Linked DNA regions of Homo sapiens. The protein of the gene in region 4 purifies or fractionates together with the protein of the main gene of each other region. This does not show direct contact. Each region holds a gene or a part of one and is shown on either strand. Other genes may lie near its edges.

Evidence for each region.
Region 1: the proteins of TNIP2 (region 4) and ENTR1 purify together in Homo sapiens (affinity purification with mass spectrometry, with the first as the bait; 2 studies listed by BioGRID). This does not show direct contact.
Region 2: the proteins of TNIP2 (region 4) and TNRC6B purify together in Homo sapiens (affinity purification with mass spectrometry, with the first as the bait; 2 studies listed by BioGRID). This does not show direct contact.
Region 3: the proteins of TNIP2 (region 4) and AMOT purify together in Homo sapiens (affinity purification with mass spectrometry, with the first as the bait; 2 studies listed by BioGRID). This does not show direct contact.

What each region holds. Positions count from the first base shown.
Region 1 is NC_000009.12:136,407,615-136,414,872, reverse strand, and holds the start of ENTR1 (endosome-associated-trafficking regulator 1), read left to right. Parts: upstream 1-4,258; 5' UTR 4,259-4,475; coding exon 4,476-4,545; intron 4,546-4,633; coding exon 4,634-4,783; coding exon of another isoform or gene 4,784-4,999; intron 5,000-5,805; coding exon 5,806-5,874; intron 5,875-6,934; coding exon 6,935-7,047; intron 7,048-7,258. Other genes in the region: PMPCA (mitochondrial-processing peptidase subunit alpha), read right to left, coding at 226-320, 1,981-2,063, 2,304-2,383, 2,674-2,876, 4,134-4,204. UniProt on the Homo sapiens protein: Endosome-associated protein that plays a role in membrane receptor sorting, cytokinesis and ciliogenesis. Involved in the endosome-to-plasma membrane trafficking and recycling of SNX27-retromer-dependent cargo proteins, such as GLUT1.
Region 2 is NC_000022.11:40,180,908-40,187,931, reverse strand, and holds part of TNRC6B (trinucleotide repeat-containing gene 6B protein), read right to left. Parts: intron 1-7,024.
Region 3 is NC_000023.11:112,816,816-112,823,839, forward strand, and holds part of AMOT (angiomotin), read right to left. Parts: intron 6,374-7,024; 5' UTR 6,312-6,373; coding exon 5,440-6,311; intron 2,624-5,439; exon of another isoform or gene 2,510-2,623; intron 1-2,509.
Region 4 is NC_000004.12:2,746,337-2,753,360, forward strand, and holds part of TNIP2 (TNFAIP3-interacting protein 2), read right to left. Parts: intron 1,610-7,024; coding exon 1,319-1,609; intron 1-1,318. UniProt on the Homo sapiens protein: Inhibits NF-kappa-B activation by blocking the interaction of RIPK1 with its downstream effector NEMO/IKBKG.

The DNA.
Region 1 (7,258 bases), on a different chromosome or scaffold from region 4:
CTCAAGCGATTTGCCTGCCTGAGCCTCCCAAAGTCCTGGGATTCCAGGTGTGAGCCACCATGCCCAGCCCCAGCGCTATTTCTTATGAGATCTCGCTGTCACTTTGTGTTGGCCTAAAGCTCCAATTACATGGTGCTCTCCCTCATGGCTACAGGGCTTCTGCAAACCTTTCCGGTCTTCCCTATGTCCAAGCCCACCTCAAACGCCAGCGGCTGGGATCCACACCTGTTAGCCGGGGCTGCAGAACCACATCAGCCAGTAAGGCAACCACCGTGTCCAAGCCTTTGCTATCAGCAGACACAGCATACATGGTGGTGTCTCTGGAAGAAAACACAAGCCCATAATGCCAGGCCCTGAACTCACACTCTGCTTAACAGCCAGGGGACGCTCGGGCTTTGCGTGCCAGGTGGACAATGCCAGGCCCTGAGCTCACACTCTGCTCAACAGCCAGGGGACACTTGGGCTTTGCATGCCAGGGGCACCTACCTTTTGTTGGGGCCCAGCAGACATTTCAGGGACGCTTGGGCTTTGCGTGCCAGGGGACACCTCCTACCCTTCATCGGGGAACAGCAGACACTTTTCCCCTTTCTCTTTTCCTGTCTTACAGTGTGAATGCTTGGTAGGCAGGACTCACAGCTACACACAGCTTGAGTCAAAATGGAGCCACTTCTGATACAGATTTTTGTAACTATACTCTCTCTCAAAAGGTGAAGTGTTTCATCCCAGCCTCCTGTTGACTGAACGAACCCACTGGTGAGTGTGGAAACATGCCCGGCCTTGGCTGGCTTGGGGGACAGCAATGGCTGGCTCGTATGGAGCTTGTCTCACTGTAACATCTGTTCCCGGCATGAGGCACTGCACAGTCAGAAGTGCACAGAGCTGGCCCATGGGACAGGCACGAAATCATGGGGTGCTCTGAGATCAAGTGTGATCAAGGGAGACCATGCAGAGCAGACGCAACAGCCACGAAGAAGAGGGAGCTTGGGAGGCAGGACGCAGTCACCAGTGCCTCTGAAGAGGGGACTTGGCTGGACCTTCACCCTGAAGAGGAGCCATTCTCAGTGACTTTGGCTCTCCACATGGGGAGAATGGCAAGAACAAAAGCCTGAGCTGAGGGCGAGGGGGGCTGGGTCTGAGTCAGGACACCAGCCACCTGGCCAGAGAAAGGAGTTCATCTGGGATGAGTGAGATTCGAGGCAAGAGTCGGAGAATCAAACACACCAGGCAGGAACCTGGCAGGGGCAGCTGGGAGTCAGGGGGTATTAAGAGGCCTTGTTTTAGAACATGAATATGTTACCTCCAAGCTAACTTTAATTCTTAGCATTTAATGTGTCTTTTATGTGTAATTTTTTTAGCATTCAAACTTAAATCAACAATTTTAAAAATCTGTGATCTATATTCACCCATCTCACATTGCCCAGTGCTTTCTGAACAAGCTCCACACCTGGCATGCAAAGACCACTGCACTGTGCTCGAGGCAACACTGCCCCCTCCCTCCACCAAGCAGCCGGCACCTCCCTGGCTCGGTGCCTTTTGCCCCTGCTGTCTCCTGGTCTGGAATGCCTTGTGCCCCGTGTGTCTAGCAAACTCCTTCTGGAACCAGCCCAACCCTGCATTTCCTATGATTCCTTTCCCAACTCCAGACCAAGTCAGCCACTCATCCTCCTGGCTCCTACCGCCTTTGGCTACGGGGTCCATTACGTATGCAAGGCCCTCTGCTCTATCTGGGAACAGGGCCTGCTCTACATCCCTGGCATGCAGCCAACAGCCTGGAGGAACTGACGGGGGTCAACTGAGCTCCTGGGGGCTGTGCTTCTCTGTGTAAGCGCCATCCACCCAAGTCTCCATCCAGGACAGGGCTCCTTCTCCCCGTGAATCTCCACACCTCCCGCTGGGAGGGGCTCAGAGGGAATCTGAGCAACGACAAGAACGTCAGTTCCCAAGGACCCAAAGTCAGTTTGTACACAAAAGCTGGTGTACCTTGATGTCTGGCAGTCACAGATACCCCCATGCTTTTCCAACGTAAGCAGAATTTCATCTTTGCTGTCAAATCGAGCAGTAGACTAGTAAAAATAAATAAGGAAACCTAAATAAGCAATCCAGGCTATCCCTGAAACACAATTTTTTTTTAAAATCTACTTTTGCTTTTAACACACATACAAAAATTATCTTTTAACTTAAAAGTCTTTTATTAACATTAACTTAGCAACTTGATAATTTATTAAAATAACCATTATAGACAAGAAAAATCTCAAACATCCTTCAAAAGTATAGTCTAAAAAATTACAAAACTGGGTACTGACCGAAAATGCCAATTTTTCCAAAAAGTGAGCAATTCCACTAAGGTATTTCGCTTCATATCTCGATCCTGAATTGATAAGAACTAGTAGTAAAAAGAAAATTGACAGGTTACATCAGATATTCAAAATAAGATTTAATCAAGAGAAACATTTTAAGATGTCAATATGACATGATAATCAGATTTAATTACATGAGGGTGATTGTGCTGATGGTTTCACAGGTATATGTGTAGCTCAACATTTATGAAATCGTACACTTTGTTTCCACTCAGGGTACAATTCATAATTGGCATGCTAATTACAACTAACAGTCAACTAAAGCATGTGCATGTTAAAACTGCGGGACCACCCACGACAACACAACAGTACTTACTTCCTACTGTACAAAACTGTCCAAACTTATTCTGAGATGCCACGCGAAGCCCATTATCCAATGTGGTTACTTTGGTTTCAAACTTTTCCTGTCCATCAACTGTAGCAAAAACAGGCTTGGGTACTCCAGGTAAGGGAGAAGAGAGGGGGATGTTGGGATAGGCACCACCACTACTAAACCGTCTGTACGCAGGAGGTCCAAACCTAAAACAGAGAAAGCGGCCCAGTTACAACAGGCTTGAGACAACAAACCTGTGATGACCTGTTAGGTGCGGTTAGTTATGTTTTGTCTGGGTTAAAAGTGAGCATCTGCCTTTCTACAGGACTTATTTCTACAGACTTTGGAAGACAAAGCAGAGGCTGACAACAAAGGCTCAGCCACGGGACCTGGAGCAAGCTGGTTCCGTCCTTTGGGTCTTAGTTGCTATCTCTGTAAAAACAGGGCTTATTAACAGTAACTCACTCTAAGTGCAGTTTGTACACATAAAGCACTTAACAGCTCTGCCCTCCAACAGCACCACCGAAGTCTTGGATAAAAGCCATATCCCTTATTAACCTGGTCCGAAGGCGGGGTGTGACTTGGCCTCTGTCTCCCTCTCCAAACTCATCTCTTGAACCCCCACACTCCCATAGGTCCTGGTCACACTGATTCTTGTCAATTCCTGGAACACATTTGACTCATCAACCCCAAAGCTTCTTCACCGTTCCAGGGCTTGCCCTTTGCCCATGCCTACCCCTTCTTTCATTCTTCAGCTCTTCCCTTAAATGTCACCCTGATGGAGGACTATCCCTCACCAGTCTAGTCTTTCCTGCTATTTTCTATCATGAAAGGCTGCTTGTTTACTCCAAAGCATTTACGCGACTGCCGATATTTTGTTTACGCTCCAGCCTGTATCCATCTCCTGGAGGCAGCACCTCCGCACCCCTGAAACGGCGCTCGTTGTGTGGGGAGGGGCGACGCCTGTGCTGTCGGAACAAAGTTCCAGCGTGGGGAAAGGCAGGCCCGGTCACTTGGGTGGGAGGAGCGGTGGGTACGGAAAGGGTTCTTAAACGTCAGAGATCAACGGACAGACCGCAGCAACCGAGAGCCTGGACCCTGGTGTCAGAACCCTGCGGGTCTAACAGAGCTGGGCCCCCACCGGCTCAGCCTCCTGAAGGAGCACGCGGTAGGTGAAGCGCGGGGGCAAATATGAGGCATGGCCTCGGAGAAGGCCCGTCGACCCGGGAAGTGAGGGGGGGAGAGGACCCAGCAGCCGGGGAGAGGAGAGACAGATGGGACTGCGTCCCCGGGCTCGAGGCGCAAAGCAAGGCAGGGCCCCCGTCGCCTCGGGGACACCAGTGTCCCGAAGTGCGAGCCCGTCCCACGGGCGCCATGTCACCTGTAGAAACCGAAGACGGAGCGTCCAGAAAGACTCGAGCCGCCCCCGCCCCAGGCCGAAGCCTGGTTCGCCTTTGGCTCACCTCAGCCGCGAACAGCCCCAAGAACCCGAGCCCCGCAGCAACCGCGTCGCCGCCAGCACCACAGCCGCCATCTTGCGTCTCCGCCCCGCTTCAGTCGTCACTTCCGCTTCCGCCCACGGCTTCCCCTCCCCCTCGCCGACGGCCCAAGGCGTTCAGGCACGCGCTTTCGGTGCTCGGAGCGGAAGCAGCGGCGAGAGGCTCGGAGGCGCGGGGGCGGCCGAGCGGCGGGCGACGGGGGCGGGCGACGGGGGCGGGCGACGCGGGCCGCGGCACGGGCGGAGCCGGGGCCATGGAGCCGCCGCTGCCGGGCTAGGCAGGTCGTGCCCCGCCGGGCCGGCGGCGATGTCGGGCTACCAGCGCCGCCCGGGCGCCACCCCGCTGTCCCGAGCCCGGAGCCTCGCCATTCCCGACGGTGAGCGGGGCAGGGGCCGAGTCCAGCGGTCCAGGTGGGCGGCGGCCGCCCCGGCACGCAGTAAAGTCGCTGTTGTCGTTGCTTCCAGCTCCAGCGTTCTATGAGCGCCGGTCTTGTCTCCCCCAGCTAAATTGTGAGCGCCCCCATGGCAGGGACCTGGACTCCCCCTTCTTCGGCATTCGGCCGGCCTTTATGTGCTATGTGCCCAGCCCGGTGCTGGCTTCCGTGGGAGACACAGGTGAGAGACGAGGGCGCCGGCCCCGGGGACGCTTCCAGTTCCCGCGCCACGTGTGGCACCTCCGCTGCAGCACGAGCTCGTCCATTGACCCATCAATGTGCAGAGCGCTCACTGCGTGCCAGGCACTCGGAATTCAAAGGCGGAGTCCCCTGCTAGGAGCTCACAGTCTGGTTGCGGGGAGACCTCCCCCAAGACAGACAGTTCCAGTACAGGATGGTTAGTGCCCGGGGAGCACAGGAGCCCGCCCGCTTTCCTCGTGGGGCTGGAGTCGGGGTGCCTTCACCTAGTGGGCAGTGATTGGAAACCGAGCTGGAGCATTCCATCTGCCTCCACAGCCGGGCAGTGGCCAGATCTGGTTCGTCCTCGTTCTACCCAAGCAGAAGTGCTGCTGGGTGCCCGGGGTGTGCAGGAGTGTTTGTGTGGTTATGCCAGGATCTGAGGACATTCGGGGGTTGTCACAAGACAAGAGGACGCGCTTGCCCCGGCTGGGCTTCAAAATCTGCTGAGGAGCCGCTTTCAGACCACGGACACCAGGGCCAGTCTGCAAGTCAGGCCATCTCCAGGGTCACAAGTCTGGGAGCTTGTGTTTTTTTTAAAGTTTTCTCGGCTGACCGGGCGCAGTGGCTTACGCCTGTAATCCCAGCACTTTGGGAGGCCGAGGCAGGCGGATCATGAGGTCAGGAGATTGAGACCATCCTGGCTAACAGGGTGAAAACCCGTCTCTACAAAAAATACAAAAAAATTAGCCGGGCGTGGTGGCAGGTGCCTGTAGTCCCAGCTACTCGGGAGGATGAGGCAGGAGAATGGCGTGAACCCAGGAGGCGGAGCTTGCAGGGAGCCGAGATCGCACCACTGCACTCCAGCTTGGGCGACAGAGCAAGACTCCGTCTCAAAAAAAAAAAAAAAGTTCTCTAGACTGTGAGAACCACTGCAGTGGAGACTCCATGTGCAAAAGAAAAAAACCAAATGTGAGGTCATAAAGACTTCCTGCCAGCATGGTGGGTGACATTGTTTCTTTGCAGATTTTGGCTATGGAAAGGGGAAATGTTCTAAGCAGAGCCCGTCAGGAGCCCACGGGACACATTTTGGAGGTAGAGTAGTTCAGCAACCTTTTCTTCTTGTCTCCATCCAACACAGTGCCAGGCACGTGTCTGGTGGGACTGTCAATGTGACTGGCTATGTGGTGTAGCTGGAGCCCAAAAGAGCAGGTGGGGGTGGGATTTCAAGGGTTCAGTCTTGATCCTAGAGTAGCAGCGAGGTGACATCAGGGAGCGGGGAAGCCCCACCTGGGGGGCTGGGGCCACAGGAGCCAGCTTTACATGGGGCTCACAGCTGGGAGGGTCGAGTGTGGCTGCTTAAGTCCCCGGAGGGTGGGAAGGCGGTGGCAAGAGGGAGAAGGGAAAAGTGGGCGTTATTTAGGCTACCTAGGTAGGAAAGTCGGGAAGAGGGTCAGGGGGCACTGGGTCCCCAGCGTTGCAGCACCTGAGGAGCTGGTTGTTGTTGTTGTTTTTTGAGACAGAGTCTCGCTCTGTCGCCCAGGCTGGAGTACAGTGGCACGATCTCGGCTCACTGCAAGCTCCACCTCCCAGGTTCACGCCATTCTCCTGCCTCAGCCTCCCGAGTAGCTGGGACTACAGGCGCTCACCACCACGCCTGGCTAATTTTTTGTATTTTTAGTAGAGATGAGGTTTCACCGTGTTAGCCAGGATGGTCTCAGTCTCCTGACCTCGTGATCCGCCCGCCTTGACCTCCCACAGTGCTGGGGTACAGGCGTGAGCCACCACACCTGGCCACCTGAGGAGCTTTGAGAGCTCCTAGCACAGGTTGACCTCACACCAGGGAGCTGGGTGTGTGCAGTGGAGTGGCTTGGGTCGTTTTAAAGCTCCCCAGGGGAGCTTTAGTGAGCAGCACAGTGTGGGAGCAGGGGCCGAGGGGTGGAAGGAGAAGATTGCAAATGCAGACGCACGTCTGTGTCACTGCCCACCTTCAGCCACCTTCACACTTCCTAGTGCTGCCTGAGTCATGGTAGAATGACAAGCGTGGCTGCCCGATCTCACATGTGGCCATGCTCTGGAAAGACAGGTGAACAGGAAGGTTCCCTTTCAACGCTCTTCAGTAGACTTTATGCATTTGTGATGTCTGTTATTTCAGATGACAGATTTGAAGATCTGGAAGAGGCAAATCCATTCTCTTTTAGAGAGTTTCTGAAGACCAAGAACCTCGGCCTCTCGAAAGAGGATCCGGCCAGCAGAATTTATGCAAAGGTAAATCCACGGCACTGTGGGCGATGGCTCTGTGGGACGTTTCTGTTCCGGCCTCTGCAGCCTCCTTTGGAGGAATCGTGCATGAGTGTGGCAGAGCAGGCAGGCGTCAGTGCTGGGGAGCAGCTCTGGGCTCAGAAGCTGCTGGGCTCCTTCCGGTAGAGAGATTGGGCCTTTCTTCTTGTTGCGAGGCAGAACACAGAAAGGAAGATGC
Region 2 (7,024 bases), on a different chromosome or scaffold from region 4:
AAGATCCTTTCTATCTTTACTGGTTATCACTTAGATGGTCTAGTTAACAGCTGCAAAGCAGTCTCAATCAATGAGATAATTAAATGAAAATCTTTGAACCTGCTTTTTATAAACTGAAAAAACCCACCCATATTTAGTAAATATGCGTTCAATTGGCCCAGGTCGGCAAAAAGTACACAATGACTAAACGGGGCTAAACGGAGAAAAGTGAGATAAGAAAAGTGAGAGACAAGCACAACATAATTAGCCTGGTGGCACCCTCTCCCACCTCACACCTCCACCACACAGGGACGCTGGGACACTGACTTAAAGCAATCCTAACTTCATCCCCCCACCTGAAGCCACCACCTCACTGACTCCAGGGAGTGCAAAAGAAACTCACAAACAGTAACAGGAACGCTCCCACCCCTCCTGCTGGATCTGTTTTTAAGTGTAAGCCTCTGCACCAAGCATTTCAGAAACATGGCACAAACCGGTATGTTTAGGAACTTCTACCAATGTACCATTCTGCTGACTGTAGCCCAAACACTATTTCAAATTTTGGAATCTGTGTATTTTCATAAAAAGTTTGTCTCCTCACATTCAAAATTAGAGATTTGACCCTTCTAAATTCTAAAAATTCCACTAGGATAAGCCAACATGTATTCTAAGAAACACTAATCCTGTGAAATGCTTTGCGATGGTGCTAAACCATTTTGGGTATTTTCAGAGTGCACATCCGCTGTACAGTAGCCTATTTTACTTCGCATAACCCTCCCTGTGCTGTCCAACAGAGTAGCCGCACGTGGCTACTGTGCACTTGCAATGAGACTAGTGCCACTCAAACTGAATTTTTAACTGTATTTTAATTAATTTAAATTTAAAAACTGACATTTCCATTGCTGGAAAACTTTTTTATGTTTGGAAAAACGTGGGTATGTGAACCTACTTTTCCATGAAAAAGTAGTAAGTTTTATGAAATCTAAAAGCAAATCAAGTATTTCCAATGAAAATTTTATGTTTGAACTGAAATGTGTTGTAAGCCTAAGATACACACCAGGTTTCAAAGTCTTGGTACAAAAAAAACGTAAAATGTTGCGTTAACATTTTAAAATCAATAATATGTTGAATTAACAATATTTTACATAAATAAAGTCGATATTACTGAAATTAATTTCACTTATTTCTTTTTATTTTTAACTTTTTTTTTTTTTTGAGATGGAGTCTTGTTCTGTCACCCAGGCTGGAGTTCAGTGGCGTGATCTCGGCTCACTGCAACCTCAGCCTCCCAGGTTCAAGCAATTCTCCTGCATCAGCCTCCCAAGTAGTTGGGATTACAGGCATCCGCCACCACGCCCGGCTAATTTTTGTATTTTTAGTAGAGACGGGGTTTCACCATGTTGGCCAGGATGGTCTCGATCTCCTGACCTTGTGATCCGCTCACCTCGGCCTCCCAAAGTGCTGGGATTACAGGTGTGAGCCACCGTGCCTGGACTGTTTACTTTTTTAATGTGACTCCTGGAAAATTTAAAATAACACACGTGGCTTGCATTCTGTTCCTACTGGGCGGTGCTGGCGCCATCGAATGATTCCCATACCAACACTGGAACACCTCCCAACACCAGGTTCGGGAATGTTGCCATAACCAAATACTTTTCTTCCTGTGCAGCATTTGAACTGCTGCCCACACCTGTGATCGAACAGTTCTTCCCTCATCTTCTGTGATGAGGAATGACTGTCCTTCAGAGCCACCGTTCTTTTTATCCTTTCCCAGGTCCTCTTTCTCTTCCCGTCCCCAAGGTCTCATTCTCAGTTCTTTTTTCTATTCTTTACAGTCCCATGGTGACCTCATCCTCTCCCTTACCTTCGACTATCACTTCCACGTGGAAGCCTTCCAAGTCTTTATCTCCACTTCTGACCTCTTTCTCAAGCTGCAGATCCACACTGCCAGCTGCCTGCTAACCAGTTCCATTGCCAAGTCCCACCAAATTCTCCAATTCAGTAAGTCTGACCTGGAATGCGTCATCTTCCTTTTGGTTGAAGATTCCCATCATTCACCTTAAAAACCTGGTCCCTAGTTGCATGGCCATAGCCTTATAGCAGGACCTTTCATAACAGTCCTTTTATCCCCTAATTGGCCTGCCTGTCTCTCAATTCTTCCTTTAATCAGTGCCCCCCCACCAAGTCCTCCTCTGCACCACTGCCATATCAAAATTCTCACTGCACTGCCATCAAATTTTCAACAGGTCCCCACCGTCTACCATAGCAATACAAACTACTCAGCAGGCACTCAGCTCCTGTACACGTGTGCAACCTCCCCTCAATCCTCCCTGGACACACCTAGTCCTCCTCCACCTTACTCTAGCTAATACAGCCTGCCATGAGTCTACTCACCACCATTCTGCCCAATCTGTAGGGTTCCACTCAAATACAAAGTCCTCAACAAAGCTTTCTCTGATCAACACAGTTAAAATCAGTGTCTCTCCTCCCTCAAACTCCTTTGGTACTTCTAATAATCATTATGGTAATGAGAGTATATGGCCTTATCTTTATAAAATAGTACAGTATTCCCTTAATAGCACTGAACAGCACCTTGCACTGCATAGTACAGGTATGCCATCTTTGGACACCTTACCAAAGAAATCAACTTAAAAAGGAAAATCTTGCCAGGTGTGGTGGCTCACACCTGTAATCCCAGCACTTTGGGAGGCCGAGGTGGGTGGATCACAAGGTAAAGAGAACAAGACCATTTTGGCCAACATGGTGAAACCTCGTCTCTACTAAAAATACAAAAATTAGCTGGCCGTGGTGGCACATGCCTGTAATCCCAGCTACTCGGGAGGCTGAGACAGGAGAATCGCTTGAACCCGGGAGGCAGAGGTTTCAGTGAGCCAAGATTGTGCCACTGCACTCCAGCCTGGCGAGCAAGACTCCGTCTCAAAAAGAACAAAAAAAAATTTGGTAAATTTGGAACTACTGGTAACTCTTAAGTCTTTATCTCCAGACCGGACCTGTAATTACTCCAGCCTTTCACCTGGATATCTCAGGATTCAATGATTCCAAAACTGAACTCATAATCTCAACCCCACACCTGTGCCTCATCTAAATGCACCCTAACTCAACGAATGGTGGCACCATTCCCACAAGAAGCCAGGCAGAGACACAGGTGTTATTTTACATTTCTCCAACCCCATCTTCTCATACCCAATGACCAACTCCTCCAAAATCTTCCTAAATGCCTCTGGAACTCATTCATTTGTCCCCAACTCTGTTGTCAGTTCAGGCCACTATGACCTGAGATTACTACAGTATCATCTGGTCTGACGTGCAATGTCCCAGCCAGTTTCCACAACACACCAGAATCGTCTTTCAAAAATCCAATCTGAACAAGTGACTTTCCCACTTAAAACCCTTCAACTGTTCTCAGGAAAAAGACTTTCAAACGTGGCTTATACACTCTTCTGCATCTGGTCAAGGCTTAGTTTTTCAGCTTACCTCTCATTTCTCAGATTATTTCTTCCCTTAAGCACACGACACTCCAACCATGTCAAAGTACTCTCTATGCTGTTCCCCAAATATGCCAATGTCCACTAGTGCCCCGTGGTCTTTGCAGAAGCTGTTATCTCTCTAGGTGTCCACCCTTTTTAACCCCCCAACACCCTGAGCACCAGCCAGCCCCTTGCATCTATTCTCTAACTTCAGCAGTCGTGTCTGGAGAAAATCTTCACACTACTGCTAGGCTTGTACTTGTACTTATCAACACCTGGCATGTGAAAAGCACTCAGTAATTATTTGCAGAATGAATGAGTAAACAGATCATTTTCTAAGTTTTTTAAAAAACAAATTCCAACGTCAATGAATGAAAGCCATTTTTCTGTCACCCATATTAATTCAACAGCATTGTATAAAGTGGGCAATGGACCTAAATTTTCATTTTGCCCATTGAGTCAAAACTGGCTGTTGTGCACGGTGGCTCATGCCTGTAATCCCAGAACTTTGGGAGGCCGAGGCAGGTGAATCACAAGGTCAGGAGTTCGAGATCAGCCTGGCCAACATGCCGAAACACTGTATCTACTAAAATATACAAAAAATTAGCTGGGTGTAGTGGCAGGCGCCTGTAATCCCAGCTACTCGGGAGGCTGACGCAAAAGCATCGCTTGAACCCAGGAGGCGGAGGTTGCAGTGAGCAAAGATCACGCCACTGCACTCCAGCCCGGGCGACAGAGTGACTCCATCTCATATTAAAAAAAAAAAAACAACCTAGTAATAATTTAGTCAAATAAACAGAATTTACATGTGTGGGCCCAGAATAATCACAATGAGGGAGAAAACGCTGTATTCAATGTTCTCCTTTGCCTTGTAAACTCTAAGACCAATTCATTTGAAATTGCTGAGAACCTTCTGATGCAAAGCACAGAATGTATGAAAAACAGCCAAGTAAACGTGGATACAACACAGAGGCACAGCCTGAAGGAAACTGGAGAGTTATGAAGAGACGACATCAGACCACAGGAATGTAGGGACTTGAATAAAGAGAAAAGGCTCCGTGCTGCTCCTGTCCTTGTGCAGGCTAAAGCTCTGTGCAATCACTGTACAGGCTTCATGATCCTGGTAGCCATGAGAAAGAACAGAGCCATTCTGCGGGGCCATAAAAGCCTTTCTGGTTCATTCAACAAAGGGAGATACAGCAAAGGGGAAGGAAACACTTACTAAGCAACAAGACTAGGTGCCCAGCCCTCACATATAGCATTTCCTTTATGCGTCGCAACAATATATTATCCCCATTTTGCTGGTGAGGAAACGAGCCTACCATCGTCACACAGTGAGTCCTGGTGACCTTATACTCACACATTTTCACTCAACATCCACTCCTGCCAAGCCGTTCTAGATGTTGGGGATACAACAGTGAGGAAAACAGATAAGGTCTCTGCTTTCAGGAAACCGGATAGTATTGTGGAGACGTACCATACACAAATAATTTCAGATGGTGATACAATTTAGGAGTGTTAAAAAAGTAAAATTGAAGGATGTGATAAAATAACTAGGAAGGCAATTCCAGGTTGCAAAGTTCTCAGAGGTAATGCAAAAGATAATTTTGAAGAGATAGTGCACAGAGCTAAAGACAATGTTTAATAAAGTGACTATCAAGTCAAACCTTCAATGAAGTCTCCAAAACTACCAGAAGCAAAAAATTACCACTCATTCCCTGATTATCAGAAAAGATAACTAAGGAGTTATCTCAGTCATAACCTAAAGCAGTAAGTTATATAGTTAGTCACCAGATGGCAAGTATTTCCACATGAACCAAACTATTGAAGGCAATGGGCCAACCAAATTAATTCTTAGATGCCCCAGCACCTACATCAGTGCTTAATAAATTACTGCTGAACAAATATATGACGGAAAGAAGAAAACAATGTTAAGATGTCACTGCCATGAGTTAAATAAATCCCTTTTCTGGCCAAGTGGCTTCAATTCACTCCACCCTACCCCTGACACCCGTCTTAATCACAAGCAGGTGAGGAAAGTGGGATTAGAGTAAATCCACGAACAATACTGTACAGAGAAACAATTAGCATATGCTGTCCCTCTCCCCAGCCACCAGACAGAAACAAGTTCCACTTAAAGAAGTCTAATATCTAAATAACTAAAAATTATTAAATGGGGTAATTATTTGGCTTTTTTTTCTTTTCTTTTCTTTTTTTTTTGAGACGGAGTCTCCCTGTACTGCCCAGGATGGAGTGCAGTGGCACAATCTCGGCTCACTGCAACCTCCGACTCCTGGGTTCAAACGATTCTCCTGCCTCAGCCTCCCGAGTAGCTGGGATTACAGGCAGGCGCCACCACCCTTGGCTAGTTTTTTTGTATTTTTAGTAGAGACAAGGGTTCACCATATTGTCCAGGCTGGTCTCGAACTCCTGACCTCGTATCCACTCACCTCGACCTCCCAAAGTGCTGGGATTACAGGCGTGAGCCACCACGCCCGGCTGGCTTTTTTTTTTTTCTCTCGAGACAGGGTCTAGCTGTTTCCTAGGCTGGAATGCAGTGGCACGATCTTGGCTAACTGCAGTGTCAACATCACTGGCTCAAACTATCCTTTCACCTCTCAGCCTCCTGAGTAGTTGAGATGACAGGCGTGAGCCACCATGCCCAGCTAATTTTGTTTAAAATTTCTTGTAGGGACAGGGTTTTGCCATGTTGCCCAGGCTGGTCTCAAACTCCTGAGCTCAAGCAATCAGCCTGCCTGGGACTCCCAAAGTGATCACAGGCGTGAGCCACCACGACTGGCCTATTTGGCTTCTTTAAGAAATTTTAAAACAAGGACCCTCCTAATGCAGATACTCAGATACTTCTGTAACCAGGAACTTGCTCTGAATATTGCACATAAACTGCCAAGTTGTGACGATCTGTTTACCAATAATGCTGACCTGGTACTCCTTGAGGAAAGGGACAAAGTACATTCATCTATCTGCATTGCCTCAGGGCTGTGTCCAGCTTAAACTGCAGATGATCAATGATTATATGATCTGAGTTATAAAAATTAAAATCTTTCCAAACTTTTCAGTCATGGAGCAGCTGGGTAGGGTGAGGAGCAGCTGGGTAGGGTGAGGACCACCCTTATTCCTCAGGGTGGTCCTCAATAGCCAGAGCTGCTCAGCCTGCTCTGCAGAACCTGAAGGTCTCATCATCGCATAACACTCTTCTAGTGTCTCTTGTAGAGCTGAAGAGCTGGAGAAGCCTTAGAAGTCTCTGCTTCAATGTTCGGAAGTTTATTTTTAAAGGACCATCCGAGTGGCCACACAGAATAACAAATGGCCATTCACAGCTGAAGAACAGAGCTGAGTTTGCACCATATATCAAAGATGCCAAAGCTTCCTTTCTGGGAACCAGATGGAATGACTGAAAAGCACTTTAAAATTGAGATACCACTTCTGATGAACGCTACCAATTTTTGTGATCTTTCAGTCATGAACCTGTGACATTTTTTTCTGAGACAGAGTAATGTTGTGATATTATCACTAGTTGATCCAGCATTAGGAAATAT
Region 3 (7,024 bases), on a different chromosome or scaffold from region 4:
CCAGAAAGAGACCTTTGGTACATTGTTTAATGTGGCTCTCCCATTTTTGTACCTAATTACCAGGTACAAAATGCTAACACCTAAGTATAAATAATTCATACCTAATGACTATTAGCCATTAAGGGAAACAATTAGTATGTGGATGGATCACTTCCACCATCACCACTACCAGGAATAGTATCTGTCAGTGTGCACTGAAGACAAAAAGCTTGTTCATGCCCTAGCTCATGCCCAATTAACCTCATATGCTCCCATGTCCTGTGGACACTTGTTCTACAGTTGATATTTCTCAATCCAGGGAAGACAGATGGCTAAGTGCATGGGATCTGGATCCCAACAGAGGGAGTCTGGAGACCTCTTCTACTGCTCACGAGCTGTGTAACTTGGTGCAAGTTACTTAATCTGCATGAGCCCATTTTATTCTTGAGGTCACAAATAAATTGCAAAAATACTGGGGTCTTCTCATTTTTGGCGGAATAGGAATTACAGTCACTTCTCTACCTCCCAGTGAGATAAGCTGACCTTGTTAGCTTGTTACTTAAAGGATATCCATTTAATCTTTGCAATAAATTGCATAAAATTCATGGTGGAACTGGGACAAATCACCAGGAGCAATTAACTTTTAACTGGCATTCCAGATGCTAAAGCACATTCCTCAGACACACACTCCAGTTACCATTACTGTTCATGTATCCATCTTTACAAGAGATCTTAACTATAAGGGCTTTTTACAGCTACAAAATCATTCCAAACACTTTCTCATGGATACCCAATAACCTACATCTTCCCCAAGAGTCCTCAAACCTGTACAAACCCTGGATTCTGTCGCTCAGGCCCATCTATGCCTCTGGTGTACCCACATTCTTCCAATCACATACATCTGTCATTATAAATAATTGCTGAATATTGAAGAGGGCATGCGAACTATTTGGGCAAAGAAGAATTGACATGGTACTCATAAGTACAACTGGAAAGTTGCTGCCATACATAATATTTTTCCCCAGAGCTCAAAGCACTCATTCAATCAAAAGCCTGGGAGTTATTTATACATTTATTTGGTGAAGAGCTCCTATTTTCCATTCTATGGATCTTCAGTTTCCTCACAGGTAAAAGACTAAGTGCTCTTTTTTCTCTTTGAATGAGAGCTATTACAATTTCTACATGCCTACAGAGTTAAAATATAATGTCCTGAGATTTGTTGGGGCTTGTGTGTCTCTTTTCTGCTTTGTGGGCAGAAAAGAGGGGCTTAAGTTTCATGTTCTCCAATGCAGCTCTCAAATTTTAAGGGAAAAAAATCACTATATTAACCTTCATTTTTGTTCCCAGGATTTGCAGTCCAAGGCCTGGGAGGTATTCTCTTTTAAAGACTGAACGCCCAGTTCTGAAATGGGCTTTCTCTCCACAGCTCCCCTGGGCCTCATCAAGCAACCCAGGCCTCTCTCTCAAACAAACTCAGCCACTGGCCTCCCTCCTGCCTGGAGACTGAAAGGCCCCTGCATTCCCTGGACAACAGCACATGGCCTTCCAGGGACCTTGGGAAGGAGGAGACCATGAGGTCTCCAGAAGGAGGTCTCTGGGGTCAGATAAGCTGAGGATGAAGATAAGCAGAGACAAGGCAGCTGCCCCTCAATTCCCCAGGCTGGAAAAGGAAGCAGATCTCAGTGCACCGTGATGTTGGGAAAACCAAGGCAGCCCGTCACTGGCTGGTTTGCAAACCAGCAATGGCTTGGGCAGTCACAAAGGGAGAGAAAGCCCTTCAGTGAAGAACTCAATCTGGGCTCCAGCATCCACCCACCAGGGGAAAGCAGGACGGAATGAACACTGGGGTGAAGCTCCCCGTGAGAAAAAGAGATTAAGGAATGACGGGGTAAGGGAGAGTTGGAGGGGGCGGATGTCAGAGGAAGCCAAAATACACCCCAAGTTAAATAATAACAGTAAAAGTAATGACAGTAATAATAAAGGTGGCAGCCATGTGAGCAGCACACTCTCCAGGTCCTTCCAGCACACAGCAGCCTGAATCGCTCCCCACTGACACGTTAACCAGGAACAACAAGCCGCCTGCAGACAACAGAATCACATGATTCCATGCAAGCCCTGACCTGCCTCCTGCCACTTCCGTCCCCTCATCCTGCTCCTTCCTAAGGCTACCTGGGCCACTGGGGCTCTGCAGAAAAGGGGACATAGCATACATGCAGGACAAAGGCCAGTGACTAAAATCAGGATCCTCCCCAAAGCTGGGAAGTGGGGTAGGGTGGGGGGTACACTCCTCCCAGAGACAGTAGTAAGGACTCAAAGGGAAAGTAAAAGCCACTCTACCCAGCTGACACAGCACCTTCCACCCTGCCACCTCGATGACTGGGAGCCCTCACCCTCCCCAGCCACACACACATGCACACATGTGCATGCACACACACACTCCACACTCCTGGCACACACATGTGCAATCCTGCACACACACTCTCACCAGAGCAGGTGCCACCCAATAGCCTGGAACTTGATTGATCCTCACCACAGAAACTGCCTTTCCCAGGCTCTGCAATGGTGAATCGGTGAATCTGTGAATCCTGGAGCAGGCTGCAAATTCCTGATGGTTTCTCTTGCACAACCAGCTCTGCTCTGAACTACAGAGTTAGGTCACCCTTAGATTCCACTAAACAAGGATTTCAAGAAACCTCAGATCTGGGCATGATTTCAACAATTGAAAGGAGGTGGCTGCTTTATAAACAGAAATGATTTAATTTTTAAAAGCAGTTGATAAATGTATAAACCCAGGATGCAGAAAAGGTTCAGCACTTAGAAAGACAAAGATTCTGAAATTTTAAAATTATTCAGATAGCCTTTGCCTTGTTTCTCATCTGGGGTTCTGGGCATTCAAGGTATTTATTTTTTAAGGGGAGGAGGGCATAAGAAAGATGAAGTAATAAAAGGATTGTTTATAATTTTGTTCATTTTAACAGCAAATCTCCAGCAGTTCACTGCACCTCGAAAAGCAAGCAAATGTTTTCTTAACAGCAATTTGTTCAAAGAGTTTGCTTTGCATCCTGACTTGTAATTTGTGGATTAAGGGCTCAGAATGTAGTCTTCTAATTGGTTGCTGCTAGCAGCAGTTACTTGGAAAGGTACTCACAAACTGTATAGCTAGTTGGTTAAAGGAAATAAAGGAGGGAAAATGTGTCACCACCTTAAAGCAGTACACTTCTGGAAAGCAGTTCAACTACCTCCTTTTGCCAGTAATTTGTCAATAGGTGCCACTCCCTCATGTAGGGCCCTGCAACAATTTTACGGCCAGTATTTGCCTGATGCAGACCCAAATTTCATATGGAGCATCCTCCCACTAGGGCCATTTTAGGTTTGCTTATTCATCAAGCATTATCAAGCACTCTGCTCCTTTCCCATAGAGAAAAACCTGTTACAGCAAAACTGTGTATTAAAATGCTGCTCAACAAGGGTAGATCATCATGGGCTCTGTTGCTTTTGAGGACAGAAAGAAAGAGAAATCCACAGATAACTTAGGTGGGAGGATAAAAAATATGTATCTTCCTGTAAAATACATGCAGCTAAATTTCTCCGGTGGTTTAATCAGGATGGGAAGAAAAGGAAAAAAAAAGAAAACCTCTTTGGGCTCCTCATTATTTATTTAGGCAGATCAAAGGGCAGATAATTTTCCATCTAGCTTCAAACACTGTGGGAGTCATTTCAGATCACAAACAATACTGGTGAATGAGTTCTGAAAATAGCTTTCCTGGGAAGGCGGGCTGTGTGCTGAGTGGGGCTGTGGCTTCTGCTCCACACCCCAGCCAACACACTCCCCTCCCACAAGGCAACAGACATCAGCCCATCAACAGACTCTTCCATACTGATGGGAAAAGCAAAATAAAAACCCCCAGCTTCATTGATATTTTGCTGGCTTGAATGGGTTTCCACTAAGTGAGGCAGTCTTGAACAGACCAACCCCTCCCTGGGTCTTCTGTTTCATTGGTCAGATGGGAATCTGGTTCTTGATCTCTTTTAAACCTGAGTAGCCTTGTTGGTTACCCCATTTCCTGTTCCAAGACACTGATCAGAACATAGGCTCCTGCCCTTTGAAAGCTGCACAGAGGAGGTTGAAAAGGGTTAGGAAATCAACCTGGGTTAAGAGGGAAAAAAAAAAAAAAATCCTAAACTGGCAAAGTTAGAGGTGGAGTCCAAAGTGAATTGCCTCTGGCTACAAAAACAGGACCTGCAGGGGAAAAAAAAGAAATACCAGGAAATGCTAGGTGCCTTCTCTCACTTTCACCCTACTCCACCCCATGACTGCCTTCTCTCCTGAGTCACTCAATGAACTTCAAGCCAGAAGGTTTTTTCCAAAATGAGCAAGTAGGGTACAGGAGACAAAGAGGTAGACATCAAAGGACATCACAGACCTAGTCTGTGAGCCGCATATAAATGAAGGCCAGCCTAGGACCAAGCACTTCAAACCTGATGGTCACCCATCATTACTCATGGCCATGAGGCAGGATACCACACTTAAATGCCACCATCGGTCCCCATGGTTTAAACCTTTTCTCCTGCCCTATATGTGGAAATACTACTGATCAGAGACATGGCCCAAATACTAACAACAGGAACAATGAACAGAATCATAGAATCATAAGGTCTAGTGAATATAGCAGTGGGACAATGGACCTCTGAATAATTAAGAAGTATATATAGGAACAACTAAATATATAAGACAGAAATGGTAATATTTTTCCTTCTGTATTTTAGCATCTGACCAAAATTTCTATATGATGTGATGGGAATTTAACTCAGAGGTTTAAAAATGTGACAGGCAACTAATAAATTCTCTACAAAAAAAAGATACAACAGTCCAGATTTCATAAACTGCAAGCATAAGGCAAGTAACATTCTGAACCTACATACATACATAGCTCCCCCACCATAACATCTGGGTGTTTGTTTAGTCCAAAAGAATAATGGTAATTCTATGGAAAAATGGTAACTGACAAGAAATACACAGATTTGTTTGCAAAAATAAATGATGAAAGCTTCATGGAGGGGAATATGTGCAAGTGATAGGATGTTCCAGACTAATTAAAGTGCAAGGTAATTTGCTTCTACCTCTCAAGGAGGGCTTATGAGAAACACAGACCCCTTCAACATCCTAGGAGAGAGGACAGCAAATAGCTGCTGAAAACAAGACTTTTGCTCCTGTTCGTCCACTAGGCAGTTGAGGCCATGCTCAACCTACAAAGCTAAGGGATTGTTAATACAGTGCTAATTATGGCTAAAGAGGATACAAATTCGGGTTGGCAGGCAATTCACGAAGCCAGAGGCCTGTCATGCATTGCAGAGTTTGTTATATCAAACACCTGCCCGTTCCTTCCCTAAGATTCCCAACACACAGCAGAAGCTGGTTGGGGATGAGGTCAGGAAATGACAGAAACAGAACTCTCTTACCTGGCTGCTCCATACTCAGGGGGATGCTGATACCTCATCAGTTGCCCCTCTGTTCTCCCTGGCTGGTTCAGGCGATGCTCACTATAGAAGTGCCCTGGCTCTTGGGGCTTGCACACTACAGATTGGGGTGGCATGCCCTTGAAGGGATATTCTGGTGGGGGGCCTCGGTGTTCCATGCCCTTCAGGCTATGCTGGTTAGGAAGTGGCCCTTGGGCCTTGTAGAATTCACTGGAACTTGTGGGATTCTTGTAGAGGTCATTGGGTTGTGGTGGGGAGAGGGGAGCACTGGTAACAGGTGGATGGGCCTTAACTCCACTGGTGGCCAGTGACATCTGCATTAGTCGTTCACTCAAGGAACGGACATGCCCTTGCTTAAGGTCTCTGAGTCCCTCATCTTGGTGCATCTTTCCAGGATTGAGCCGCTGAACTGATGGGCGTCCCTCAGTCCTCATCTTCTGGTTGGTGACTCCAGTGACATAGAAGGCAGCTCCAACACTGGCATGCTGTTGGCCCCGAAAGTACTGGGACTGGACCTTGGCTTCTTCATAGGTCGGGAGTTCTTCATTATTTTGCATTCGAGGAGACAGCTGCTTCTCCATGATGAGGTTTTCTGACTGGATTTCCTGCCCCTGGGGTTCTTGTCGAGCAGCATGAGCCACAAGCTGTTGGTGGTGGTCTTGGGGACTCAACACATCACTCTGAGGGCCCGGGTTCCCACTGCCACTGGGGAAAGGAGGGCCATTCCCTGTGGCTTGCTGGTGTATGGCAAGCAGGCTGCGATTCTCACTAGGATTGCCATAGCGAAGCTGCTCTTGTAGCAAACGCTGCAATACCGTGGTCCCTCCACTTGGCTGTTCTTCAGAATTTCTCATCTCTATTGCTGGTGGTGCCTTGTGAAGAGAGAGAGAAATTGGGCACCTGGGCTGCCCTTGACCTGGGAAGGGGAAACAGGAAGCTTAACACCCAGTTGATGGATAAATCAGTCCTCTAAAGGGAAAGAAAATGGATATTGGAGGGTGAGGATTCGATTGCAGAAACAAAGTAGAGAATTGACTCTAAAATTAATAGATTGTTGGGGATTCCAGGCCCTAGCACTGATATGATGAAGAACATGGAGGCATAAGAGCTCTAGGTTTTCTCTTTCACTTTTAGCATGAGTTAAATATTCAATCTGGACTTAACTCCTAAGAATGCTTGAGAAACCTGGAACAGTCAACTAGGGTAATCAAAGGGGGTAACTTTTCAAGGTCCATATTCACAGGCTTCATCTCTCTGTATTCTATTTAAAGCAAAAACCCAAATCTTATGGCTGTGGAGGTGGGGGCAGGACAGTGGGGAAAGTTACCCCATAACAGGATTTGTAAAGCAGCTCAGCATATGAAGGCAGCTACAAAATGCAAAATAAAGACTCAAATAAATAAAAGGTGAAGAGAGCTTGGCTTGCACCAGACAGTAATGATCCCTGCCTCGATGCAAATCTTTTTCTCTGATCTCATAAGGCTCTGAAACATCTTTTTAAAAAATCATTTTCATAGTCTCCATTTTGGATGCTCCTTGGCTTAATAAGAGAAGGACTTGGAATACT
Region 4 (7,024 bases):
GAAGTGACACTTATTTAGAGACTGTGATGAGGGCCTACCCTGCCACTGGCCCCACCCCCGCCTCAGGCTCAACACTGTGTGTGGCTCCTTTCAAATCCCCAGAGGGAAATGACACAGTGACTCAAAATCAGACCAGAACACCCTGCCTCCGCCCAGACGGCACTTTTCCTCTGGTTTCTGAATGCAGCTGTGTCCTCTCTGAGGTTCCCCGCCTGGAATCCACCCAGCTGAGGTGGGCAGTTCTCAGACCAACCTTCTCCCCAGTGGGCGCCTCGGTGAAGCTGCTGATGGGTGCGGGATGTACTGTCTGCCACAGAACATCCCAGCGCGTGTGTTTCTGCATGAACCTTGGTGCTGCCTCAGAGAACTGCCTAGAAAGGACCCGAGCGAGAGGCCCTGTGCCCGGCAGTGCGAGTGAGATGGGGTCTCAGCCTAGGTGAGATGTGCACGGAGTGCCTCCATTCCCCTGCCTGCCACACACAGACCACCACAAGCACCAGCAAGATGGAAGGTGCCTGGCACACAGATGCCTTGGGCCACTGCTCCCCTACTTTTCTGCCTAGGAGCCCCCTGGTTTCTCCTGATGCTGAAACTCCCACGGTCCTTCTCTCTCCCACTAGACCCCACAGAGAGCTACAGCCCAGATCCAGCCTATCCTGGAGGTCCAGCGAACCCTTCTTTGGCCCTCACTGTCACTTGGTGCCGCTGCCCCCGGCCCTTGCTTTGATGATGAGGAGGCTGTGGCCCTGAGCCAGGTCTCCAAGCTTGCGGGAGGCCGTGCTGCTGGCAAGGACATGCCTAAAGCCAGCTTTGGAGATGGCGGTTCCAGCTGTGCCTGCATGCACTCAGACACACTGAGCCTGAAGAAGGCGGGCACTCACGGTCCTTCCAGGAGTTTGGGGTGTGGAACTGGAGGCACTCCCCATCCCCAGCAGTACCACCTGGCTCTGCTTCAGTTTCCTCGGATGGAGGATGTGACTACACTTCCTCCAGGCAGCTCTGCCAGGCTCAGCTCCTCCTCCTCATCCTCAGCTGAGGCAGATGAAAGCCAAGTGCCATCTCCCACCTGGGAGCGGGGTCGGCCACAGGCCTGGTGCTGGGCAGTGAGGTGGCTGCCTGCTTTCCTATTACATTTTGCATGTTCCATCATTTTAAAAGAAACCCTTGGATGAGTGAGCTTTGCCCCGTCAGCTGACTCTCGTTACTGAGAACAGAAGTGGGTTCTGGGGCGCCCCCCCACCTCTGTGATCAGGGGCCTGTAGGCGATGCTCCCAGCACACAGAGGTCTTCCCCACACTCTGCTTACACTGTGGCCTACCTGGTCAGGACTTCTCTCCCCCACATTCCTTTGTGCATGCTGTCGTTCATCCAGACACTTGGCCAGATGCTGACACATGTGGGCGGTGGCGGTCAGCGTCCTCCGCAGCTGATGGGTCTCGTTGGCCAAGGAGCGGCACAGGACGTCACTGGCGGCCCGGGCGCGCTCCCCTTCTGCCATGCTCCTCCGTAGCAGGACGACTTCCTTCTCTCGCTCGTGTTGGGGCTGGCTCAGCAGCTGCTGCATCTCCCTCTCTTTTTCTTCTAGTCGCTCAGTCAGCCTCTCAATTTCCTAAGTGGAAGATTTAAAAGCACAGTTTACTGAATTAAAAGAAGCAGTGTCAAGAGCAAATGTTCAGAAAGCAAAAGAAGACCTGGCGTGGATGCCCCATCACCAGACACAAACATACTCACTCAGAAGTTGGGCGTTTGAACTAACAATTACTCACTCAGAAGTTGGGCATTTGAACTATTAACTCTGGAGTTTTTCAGCCTACAATGTTCTGTTCTGAAACTTCATCTCAAATTTTTTTTTTTTTTGAGACAGAGTTTCACTCTGTTGCCCAGGCTGGAGTGCAATGGCACAATCTTGGCTCGCTGCAACCTCCACCTCCCAGGTTCAAGCGATTCTCCCACCTCAGCCTCCTCAGTAGCTGGGATTATAGAGCCCACCACCAAGCCCAGCTAAAAGAATTTTTTTTTTTTTTGAGACGGAGTCTCGCTCTGTCGCTCAGGCTCGAGTGCAGTGGAGCGATCTCAGCTCACTGCAAGCTCCGCCTCAGAGGTTCACACCATTCTCCTGCCTCAGCCTTCCGAGTAGCTGGGACTACAGGCACACGCCACCACGCCCAGCTAATTTTTTGTATTTTTAGTAGAGATGGGGTTTCACCATGTTAGCCAGGATGGTCTCGATCTCCTGACCTCATGATCCGCCTACCTCGGCATCCGCCCACCTCAGCCTCCCAAAGTGCTGGGATTACAGGCGTGAGCCACCACGCCTGGCCCAATTTTTATATTTTTAGTAGAGACGGGGTTTCACCATGTTGGCCAGGCTAATCTCGAATTCCTGACCTTAGATGATCCGCCAGCCTTGGCCTCCCAAAGTACTGGGATTATAGGCGTGAGCCACTGCGCCCAGCAATTTTTTTTTTTTTTTTTTTGAGGCAGGGTCTCACTGTCACCCAGGCTAGAGTGCAGTGGCACAATCATGGCTCACTGCAGCCTCGACCTCCCCAGGCCCAAGCGATTCTCCATCCTAACCTGAGTAGCTGGGACTACAGGCACGTGCCACCGTGCCTGGTTAACTTTTTTGTATTTTGTAGAGACAGGGTTTTGCTGTGATGCTCAGGCTGGTCTTGAACTCCTGGGCTCAAGAGATCCACCCGCCTTGGCTTCCCAAAGTGCTGGGATGACAGGTGTGAGCCACCACGCCCTGCCAAATTCTATTTTCACAAGCAAGTTCATAATTTTAGATTTCATATCATCAAAATGTTTTTTTGAGATGAGGGTTTCGCTATATATAGCCCAAGCTGGTCTTAAACTCCTAGGCTCAAGCAAATCCTCCCACCTCAGCCTCCTGAATAGCTGGGACTACAGGCTCAAGCCACCACACCCAGTTATCATCAAATTATCAAAGTGGCAATTCCAAGCACTTTTTTGATGGGATAGGTAGAAACTCCACTGTGGTGGGTAACCCCAAAAAGATGTCCACAACCAAACCTCCCATTCCCCGGTATCTGGGAATGAAACCTTACTTAGAGATAGGGTCTTTGCAGATGTAATTAGTTAAGGTGGGGACAAAATGGATTAGGACGGGACTGGTGTCCTTGTAAGCAGACAGAAGTCTGGACAGACACACAGAGAGAAGACGACCACGTGACAACAAAGATAGGAGTGACGTCTTGTCTTGTGGATAAAGGCCAAGGAACACCAAGGATTGGTGGCCCCCACAGGAAGCTGAAGAGGCGAGGAAGGGTCCTTCCCTAGAACCTTGAGAGAGAGCCGATGCCTTGGTTTCTGGCTTCTGGCCTCTAGAACTGTGAAAGATTAAATTTCTGTTGCTTGAAGCCCCCCAGTTTGTGTTACTTTGTTACAGCAGCTCTAGGAAATTAACACACCCAACCCCAATTACTTCTTAAAGAATTTAAAAAGGTTCTTAAAATGACAATTTTATTTTGAGATAGGGTCTCGCCCTGTCACCCAGGCTGGAGTACAGTGGTGCCACCATGGTTCACTGTAGCCTCCACCTCCCAGACTCAAGTGATCCTCTTGCCTCAGCACCCTAAGTAGTTGGATTACAAGTGCATGCCACCGTACCTGGCTAATTTCTGTATTTTTTGCAGAGACAAGGTTTCACCACTTTGCCCAGTCTGGTCCTGGACTTGAGTGATCCGCCTGCCTCAGCCTCCCAAAGTGCTGGGATTATAGGCACGAGCCACCACATCTGACCTGACAATTTTTTAATATCTGGCCTTAAATTTGTACTTTTCCGTTTTCAAAGAATCCTCCAAAATAAACAGTACATTACATGAAGGAGGTGAAGCAGGCTCAACTAGTCCATCCCACAAGTGAAGAAACAGTTTCAGAAAAGTCACGGAGGAGCCCAAGCTTCCCCCAGAAGTGGCGGGAGAAGGGTCCAGCCTCTGTGTCTAGTACTTGAGGTAAGAAGGGACAGAGACCGGGAACCTAGAATGTTCTCATCACAATGGAACAAAATACTAAGCCCTATTACTGCGAGAACCCTGATTATTATTATTATTATTATTATTATTATTATTATTTTATTATTTTAGAGACAGGGTCTCGCCCTGACACCGAGGCTGCAATACAGTGGTATAATCACAGCTCACCGAAGCCTTGAACTCCTGGGTCCAAGTGTTCCTCCCGTCTCAACCTCCCAAATAGCTGGGACCATGGGCTCGAGGTCAAGGCTGCAGTGTGCTGTGACGGTGCCACTGCACTCTAGCCTGGGTGACAGTGAGACCCTCTTCAGGGATAAAGGACTTTGAGCAAAACCTGACTTCTGGTTTTTTTTTTTTTTGATAAAGACAGGGTGTGGCTATGTTGCCTAGGCTGGTCTTGAACTCCTGGCCTCAAGCAATCCTCCTCCTGCCTCAGCAGGGGTCACCGTGCCCAGGTAAAATCTGATTTCGGAGCCTCCTTCCTGCGTTGGTCAAATGCTGACAGTAGGAGAAACAAACAGCTCCACAAACAGGAGGGCAGCATGTCCACAGCTCGTAGATCCTGAGGGCGTGGCTCTCTCTTGCCTCCACACCCTAGTACTCAACACTGAGCCCAGCCCCACACAGATGCCCAGTAAATGGGAATAAGACTGGGCCATACAGAGACAGATCAGGACGCAGGCTCTACGCTCAACCCGTGGGGGCAGGCCAGCCCTGCAAAGGGCTGCCCCACTCATCCTCCCCTCGGCAGCATGAGGGCCCCAGGACCCCTCCAGCCCCCGGGCTTCTGGCATTTGTCACTGGCTCTGAAGTTGCAGAGCTTTGTGCTGGTTTATCTGTCTGAGTGCCTTGTCCAGTTAGTAACAGTTCTTAGGACACAACAGCACCTCGACCACTGTGGTCAGAAAACAAGGTACGAGCTGGAGTTGTGGGTCTACACACACAGGCACAACACACAGACTAGTCAGCAACTGGGCTGACATCTCTCAGGAAAGCCTGTCGCCGGGACCCACAACTCCATAGCTCCACGCTCAGAACACAAAAGTGTAAACAGCTCTATTAATAGTCTTGTGGATTGGCCTTAAGAGGCACAGTGGCCTCTTGGCTTTTAGCGCTGCGGCAACAAAGTATCACAAACTTGGTGTCTTAAACAACAGAAGTGTATTCTCCCAAAGCCTGTAATCCCAGCACTTTGGGAGGCCGAGGTGGGAGGATCACTTGAGCCCAAGGGTTGGGACTAGCCTGGGCAACATGGCGAGACCTTGTCTCTACAAAAAATACAAAAAACATTAGCCAGGCATGGTGGTGGGCGTTTGTAGTCCCAGCTACTCGGGAGGCTGAGACAGGAGGATCACTTAAGCCCAGGAGGTCAAGGCTGCAGTGAGCTATGATCATGCTACTGCACTCCAGCCTGGGCAACAGAGTGACCCTGTCAAAAAGAGGGGAGGGGAGGGGAGGAGAAAGGAAGAAAGAAAGGAACAAGGAAGGTGGCCCGGGGCGGTGGCTCATGCCTGCAATCCCAGCACTTTGGGAGGCTGAGGTGGGTGGATCACGAGGTCAGGAGTTCAAGACCAGCCTGGCCAACATGGTGAAACCCCGCCTCTACTAAAGATACAAAAAATTAGCCAGGCGTGCTGGTGGGCGCCTGTAGTCCCAGCTACCCAGGAGGCTGAGGCAGGAGAATCGCTTGAACCCGGGAGGTGGAGGTTGCACTGAGCCAAGATCCCGCCACTGCACTCCAGCCTGGCGACAGAGCAAGACTCAGTTTAAAAAAAAAAAAAAAGGAACAAGGAAGGAAAGAAAGAAAAGAAGAGAAGAGAAAAGAAAAGAAAGAGCCAAGAAAACAAGCAAAGCAAAGCTAAGCTAAGCCGGAAGGGAAAGGGGGCTGATACGCCAGGACCAGGCAAAGCCTATGAAGCTGGTCCCGAGAATGGTGACAGGATGGGGTTGGGCAGGACCAGGTTGCACAATGAATTGGTGCCATTATTCCAGAAAGTATTAACTGGAGGGGCTTTGTAAAGTTATCCACTCAGGCCTTGTGTTACAGATGAGGTAAGGTCTCAAGTCCAGCTGTGGCTGCACTGAGGACCACAATTCTCTGGCCTGATCTTGCCCCATCACACACTGACCGCAGCTTGATCACAGACGCACTGGTCAGCTCCTCCACATTCTGAGCCTCAGCACTCTCTCTGGGAGCCCTCAGTCCCTACTGGTCCAGGGTTCCTGCTCCTAACGGGCTCTCATAGATGAGAGCAACCTAGCAACGGCTTGCTTCCTGCTGTGTCTTTAACTCTGCACTGCCACCTCAGTGAACCCAGGGCCTGCAGGAGGTGACAAACCTCTCCATTCTTCCACAGGTTCCATGACCGACCTCAGATTGAACGTTGGGATGAGCAATAAATATGTAATTGCATAAAATACCAGATAAGGCCAGCACAGTGGCTCACGCCTGTAATACCAGCACTTTGAGAGGCCGAGACAGGAGGATCCCTGGAGGCCAGGAGTTTGAGACCAGCTTGGGCAACATCATGCGACCCCTTCTCTACAAAAACTTAAGAAGTTAGCCAGGTGTGGTGGCTCATAGTCCTTGTGGTAGGCTCTTCGCCTATAGTCCTAGACACTCGGGAGGCTGTGATGGGAGGGCTGGTTGAGCCCAGGAGTTCAAGGTTACAGTGAGCTATGATGGCCCCAAGGCATTCCAGCCTAGGTGGCAGTGTCACAGACCAAGACCCTGTCTCTAAAAAAATAAAAATAAAAATAAAAAAACAAACAAACAAAACTAAATCATTAAAATGTTCCTTAAATAATTAAAAATCCCCCCATGCTGGGCGTGGTGGCTCATGCCTGTAATCCTAGCACTTTGGGAGGCCAAGGCAGGAGGATCACTTGAAGAAAGGAGTTCTAGACCAGCCTGGGCGACACAGCAAGATCCCGTCTCTACAAAAAAAAAATAAAATTAGCCAGGTGTGATGGCACACTCCTGTGGTCCCAGCTATATGGGAGGCTGAGGCAGGAGGATCACGTAA